Linked DNA regions of Homo sapiens: region 2 is linked to region 1. Evidence: fine-mapped expression QTL. A gene starts in region 1. The other region holds a variant in brackets. All regions are shown on one strand. Distances are between the middles of the regions.

Region 1 (2,907 bases):
GGCTTAGAGTGAAATGAATATAAATGGAAATCTAATACTGTAAATAAATAATGACTGATTGGGCAGCTGGGTCAGAGGCATCCAGCCTAAACAGATAAAATTCATCTCAAGGATGAGGACAGTAAAGATTCAAACTCCAGAGGGAGGTAATGGGACAAAAGGAGTTGCAGGCGTAGAAAAAAAAAGAAGCACCCTCAAAATATTCTCTGGGTTATCAGATGGCACAGGAGGGGCGTGGCAAATAAACTAAAATCCATGGTTCTTCACCCATTCTTTCATATTTTCTAACACGGCGGGAATACACTTTTCTAATTTCGTTTCGCCCAATTTAAGGAAAAGATAAGCAAGGATAAAAATTCCTCATATATAGCACAATTAAAAGGGAGCTGGGATTCTCTAACTTATTACCTTAATCGGCTACACAAAGATGAAGCTACATTTCAATCGACACCATGCGCTGGCACGGGAGTAACTCACTTAAAACACCACAATCCAAGGTCAATTTTTCTCAACTCCATTTATGACTGCGTAAAGATTTTATTAAATCTTTTTTCCTATTTCACACATCAATTCCTAGGGTCCACACAAACTCTTCCATCTTCTCCAAACTGGTATTTGGATTAAACATTATCCAAGATCAGTCTTTAAAGTAAATTTCATAATTTCATATAAAAGTGTGCACCACATTAACACTCAAATGTGTGTACAATTAAAAATATACAGACCAGCAACAGCGACTCTTAAATGAATTTAGACTCAAAGTGTTTTCACAGAGGTTTTTCTGCCGTCTTGGAGGGGTAGGAAACTGCTGGCATTACGAATCCCATTTCATGGCTGGGTAAACCGAGGCACTTAGGGGTTACAGAGGTAAAGATGGAAATAGAAACCAATTTCTCCCTCCGACTCTACGCCTGGTCCCTTCCCACTAGACTTTTCAGCACTCAGTGGCTAAAAATGGGACCCACTTGAGAACTGCAAGGGTAAATAAGAGCTACTTGTTTCAGAAGGTGGCGGCGGGGGAGGGGGACTTACCCACTTGATGCGCCCGATTGTGTGTGGGCTCTAACAAGAAAGCTCTCCCTGGATGCCCAAAGGTTTGCACCCACCCGCTTTAAGCTCAGACCCGAGAGGCACCGCCAGGCAGACAGGGCAGCCGGAATCGTGCAGCCCGAGAAACGCGAGAGGAATGCGGGGCGCCCGGGCGGCGCGGGGGCCGCGGGCCCCGGGACACCATTTGCTCCCGGAGCGACGCCGTGGCCCGCCGGGCGGGGACGATGCTGAGCCTTCCGCACACACCTGCCGGAGCCCGCCCGGGAGCCCCGGGCCGCCTCCCGCGCGCCGGACGCCCACCCAGCCTCCAGGCGCAGGAGCTCTCGGCCGCGCTAGGCCAGGGGCGGGAAGCCGCGGCACCCCTCTCCGCGGGCTGCGCTTGGCGGCTGGCGCGGGGGAGCCGCGGGGCGAGGCAAGCCCGCCTTCCTCCCCAACCCCCCCTCCAAACGGCGTCACCTGTGCCGGGTCCCGGGGCGAGTCGCGCGCGGGCGGCGGCTGCGCCGAGCCGGGAGAGGGCGGCGGGTGTCTACAGGAGTCTGCTCATCCGGGCCGGCCCGAGGGCTGGCGCTGGCCAGTGCCGCCCGGTGAGATGCTCACGGGAGCCAGGGAAGCCGCGGGTTCCGGGCCGCTTGGAGGTGCAGTCGCGGAGGCTCCAGCTACCGCGGCGGCCGTCGCGCCCGCCCGGACTGCGGGCTCGGGTTACCGCAGAGCTGCTCCTTAAAGGGGCCGCGGCCGCTCGGGCTCCGGCTCCCGCTCCGGGCGGCTCCGACCCTGGCCAAAGTGGGCGGGGCCCCGAGGCGGGCCGCCGAGCAGACCTTCTTGCCCTGGAACTTGGGTCCCGGAAAGAGCCCAAAAACCCTAACACCCGAAGTCGCAGCGGAGAGATCCTGGAAGCTCACACCTTGCCAAGGGCAGAGGGTGCAATTCCCGGGTTTTCCAAAGCAAGTCACAAAACTTGCCAGCGGGGGAACTGTGTGAGCCCGCCCCCGCAGCGGTCAGTACCTGGGCTAGCCACGTAACAAAAAATCTTCTTAAATTATGAATTTACATTCTGCCTTAAATGCTCAAATACTGGGGACTTCATGGTTAGATCATCAGAAAAGAGATGAAAAGGCAACTGCTGGTTTTTCTTGCCACGTCTGACACGGCCACACTCGAGTCCCGCCAGTTCTTCTTTGGGGCTGCAGGTGCATACCAAACTGGTAGGGGGCGCGTGTAGAAGAAGCGTGTTCTCTCCAGCACCACCTCCAGAATTCCTGAAAAACACCCTCATGGGTGCACCAGCACTACACCTACACCCGGAACCCCTCTGTTGTCGGGGTGTGGAAGTTGGATTTGAATATTTGGTGCTGGCTGAGAATTCCAAGTTGCCTAGTAGATAAAGTTTGACATTAAATAGATGTTCTGACCTGTTATATACAGCCCCAAAAGCCTCCAAGTGATCTGCATCAACCAGAGATAATTGTCTGAAACAAAACAAAATAACAAAGAGGTATACTCATGCATTATAATTCGCAGAGAGCAATCACAAGGCCTTTTCTTGAAAAGAGGTAAGTTCTAAATAAATAATTTGTAAACACTATCATTGATAACAGGATATTTATTTCTAAGAAATGTCAATAGAGCTAACATATTTGATCTACTATATACATGCGCAGAAAGACACACATATCTGCCGCAGATTTAGACCAGAAAATATATACACAAAAGCTCATATAAGCTGTCCATGTTTATTTTCAAGAGAGGGCAATAGAATTTAAATCAGAACCTGGAATTCTGTCAGTTTATTAGAGTTGTGTGCCTTTAGCTAACTGAACCTCACTGAGGCTCAATTTCTTCATCTTTAAAATGGTAATA
Region 2 (2,907 bases), 100 kb before region 1:
AAATGCTCTGTAAATAGTTGTTATACTGCATTGGTTAGGGTATAATGAAAGAAAAAAAAGCTATACATGTTCAATATAGGCACATTTTTTAAAATATTTTCAATCTGAGGTTGGTTGAATACATGGATGCACAGTGTATGGATACTGAGGGCCAAGTGCAGCCTCTACTTCACCTCTCACTCACTCTTCAAACCACTGCAGTCATGTGTCTACCCAACAGTGACTCAAAGTCCAAATCCAGTGGATTCTCCTCAGTCTTCATCTTACTTAACCTGAGGAAGATTGAAAGTACTGATCACTCACTACTTTAAAACTTCCAGTTTCCTTACCACAGTCTCCTTGGTTCTCCTTTTATCTCTCCTTCTCGTTTACTAATATAGCAAGATACTCACCTTTCACCATTTTTTATTTTTGCCTTTTAAAAGGTGATAGAACTTGAGCTTCTTGTTCAGAAGGGTTATATGAATAAACTTCTAAGTTATGCAAATGTAGGGTGAGTGGCAGCCAGCATAAGAGGATGTTCCCCATGGAATGCCTTCTTCCTTACTGCCAGAGTAATAGATCCAACTTGTTCAATAACAAGTGTGTTCCTGGTGGTCTTTGGCTAGACAGCATTGGCAATTTTTGTCTTATATATAAGTAAAATACTAAACACATTTATATTATTGCTTATGTGATTCAGTGACTTTAAGTAATGTAAAGAATGGGAGGAAGTCACACATACACACACCTGATAGTTGATCTCTACATTGGCACACAGCCAGTACTTACCAAGTAATTAAACATTGCTTTATGTTGTCTATTATCCTGTCTAATCATTTCAGCATGTTTTTTAATGTTACTTATATGATTACCTATTAAACATTTACACTAAACAAGAGATTTCTCCAGACAGAAGGAAGATTTTGCCTTACTTGTTTTAAAAGAGAGTTCAAATAGGGATCTGATTAGATGTAGCTCAGGTGCTGCTCTCTTGCACACATTTGGGAAGCCTGAGCTTATGGATGGCAATTACAGTGTGTACTGCAGGATGGATACAGCACTGCAGACAGTGAGAAGATCAAGATACTGAGCTAATCTGTGGAAGCAAGAGCCCACAGTTCCTTTCAGAGGGGTTTGCCCTGTTTACATCATCTCTTCCTTTATCTTCGTTTACAACAGTAAGTCTACAAATAGATATAGACAGCATCTCTGTGCAGGTGGTTTTCTGTGAAAATTAGAGAAGGACCAAGTTTTACCTCTGGGTTCT[C/T]TCAATAAACTGTGGGAAAGTCTGGATTTTTATAGGCTATCAAACTAGGGTTGTGTTTCTATCCAATTCTGTCTAGATCTTAAAAGAAGGGAGAAACTCCAGCTTGGCATCTGGTTGTACATGTCATCTGAAAAATCAACTGAAACTTTTTGAATTCAAGTGGAGAGTGGAAGTGGCTGCAAGTAGACTATGAACTCTTTGAGGAGGAACTCTTCTGATATGGTTTGGCTCTATGTCCCCACCCAAATCTCATGTGGAATTGTAATCCCCATGTGTCAGGGGAGGCACCTGGTGGAAGGTAATTGGATCACGGGGGCAGATTTCCCCCATGCCGTTCTCATGATAGTAACTTCTCACAATATCTGATGGTTTAAAAGTCTGTGGCAGGAGGACTCTTCCAAGATAGCCGAACAGGAACAGCTCTGGTCTGCAGCTCCCAGTGAGACTGACACAGAAGATGGGTGATTTCTGCATTTCCAACTGAGGTACCTGGTTCATCTCATTGAGACTGGTTGGACAGTGGGTGCAACCCACAGAAGGCAAGCCGAAGCAGGGCTGGGCGCCGCCTCACCCAGGAAGCGCAAGGGGTCAGGGGATTTCCCTTACCTAGCCAAGGGAAGCCGTGAGAGACACTGTAGTGGGAGGAACAGTACACTCCTGCCCAAATACAGCACTTTTCCCACAGTCTTCGCAACCAGCAGACCAGAAGATTCCCTCCAGTGCCTGGCTCAGTGGGCCCCATGCCCACCGAGCCCAGCAAGCAAAGATTCATTGGCTTGAAATTCTCGCTGCTAGTGCAGCAGTCTGAGATCAACCTGGGATGCTGGAGCTTGGCAGGCGGAGGGGCGTCTGCCATGGTGAGGTGTGAGTAGGCAGCTTCTATGCTCACAGTGTAAACAGAGCTGCCAGGAAGCTCGAACTGGGTGGAGCCCACCGCAGTTCAGCAAGGCAGACTGCCTCTTTAGGTTCCACCTCTGTAGGCAGGGCATATCTGAACAAAAGGCAGCTGCCCCACTCAGGGACTTATACGTAAAACCCCCATCCCCCTGGGACAGAGCACCTGGGGGAAGGGGCAGTGGTGGGCACAGCTTCTCCAGACTTAAACGTCCCTGACTGACAGCGCTGAAGACAGCAGTGGTTCTCCCAGCATGGTGTTCAAGCTCTGATAACAGACAGACTGCCTCCTCAAGTGGGTCCCTGACCCCCGGGTAGCCTTACTGGGAGACACCTCCCAGTAGGGGCCGACAGACACCTCATACAATAGAGCTCTGGCTGGCATCTGGTGGGTGCCCCTCTGAGATGAAGCTTCCAGAGGAAGGATCAGGCAGAAACATTTGCCATTCTGCAATATTTGCTGTTCTGCAGCCTCCGCTGGTGATACCCAGGCAAACAGGGTCTGGAGTGGACCTCCAGCAAACTCCAACAGACCTGCAGCTGAGGGGCCTGACTGTTAGAAGGAAAACTAACAAACAGAAGAAGCATCAGCATCAACAAAAAGGACATCCACACCAAAACCCCATCCATAGGTCACCAACATCAAAGACCAAAGGTAGATAAAACCACAAAGATGGGGAGAAACCAGAGCAGAAAGGCTGAAAATTCCAAAAACCAGAATGCCTGTTCTCCTCCAAAGAATCACAACTCCTCGCCAGCAAGGG

The links. PIP is the estimated chance that this variant, and not a neighbour inherited with it, causes the effect.
Region 2: its variant is fine-mapped to the expression of TLCD4-RWDD3 in whole blood (INTERVAL, PIP 0.97).

The regions. Positions count from the first base shown.
Region 1 is chr1:95,116,217-95,119,123 of GRCh38, reverse strand. It overlaps TLCD4-RWDD3 (TLCD4-RWDD3 readthrough), which reads right to left and starts at 1,201. Exons shown (of 8, transcript NM_001199691.1): 1 at 1,033-1,201. TLCD4 (TLC domain containing 4) reads right to left here and starts at 1,769. Exons shown (of 7, transcript NM_152487.3): 1 at 1,507-1,769. RefSeq lists silencers at 1,279-1,328, 1,409-1,688, 1,616-1,762.
Region 2 is chr1:95,215,725-95,218,631 of GRCh38, reverse strand. The region is part of intron 6 of TLCD4-RWDD3 (TLCD4-RWDD3 readthrough); the gene reads right to left. All of the region lies in intron 2 of RWDD3-DT (RWDD3 divergent transcript), which reads left to right. Among named protein-coding and RNA genes, the nearest start is that of RWDD3-DT, 17 kb to the left of the region's middle. RefSeq lists an enhancer at 1,517-2,017. The variant C/T (reference allele first, on the strand shown) is at 1,250.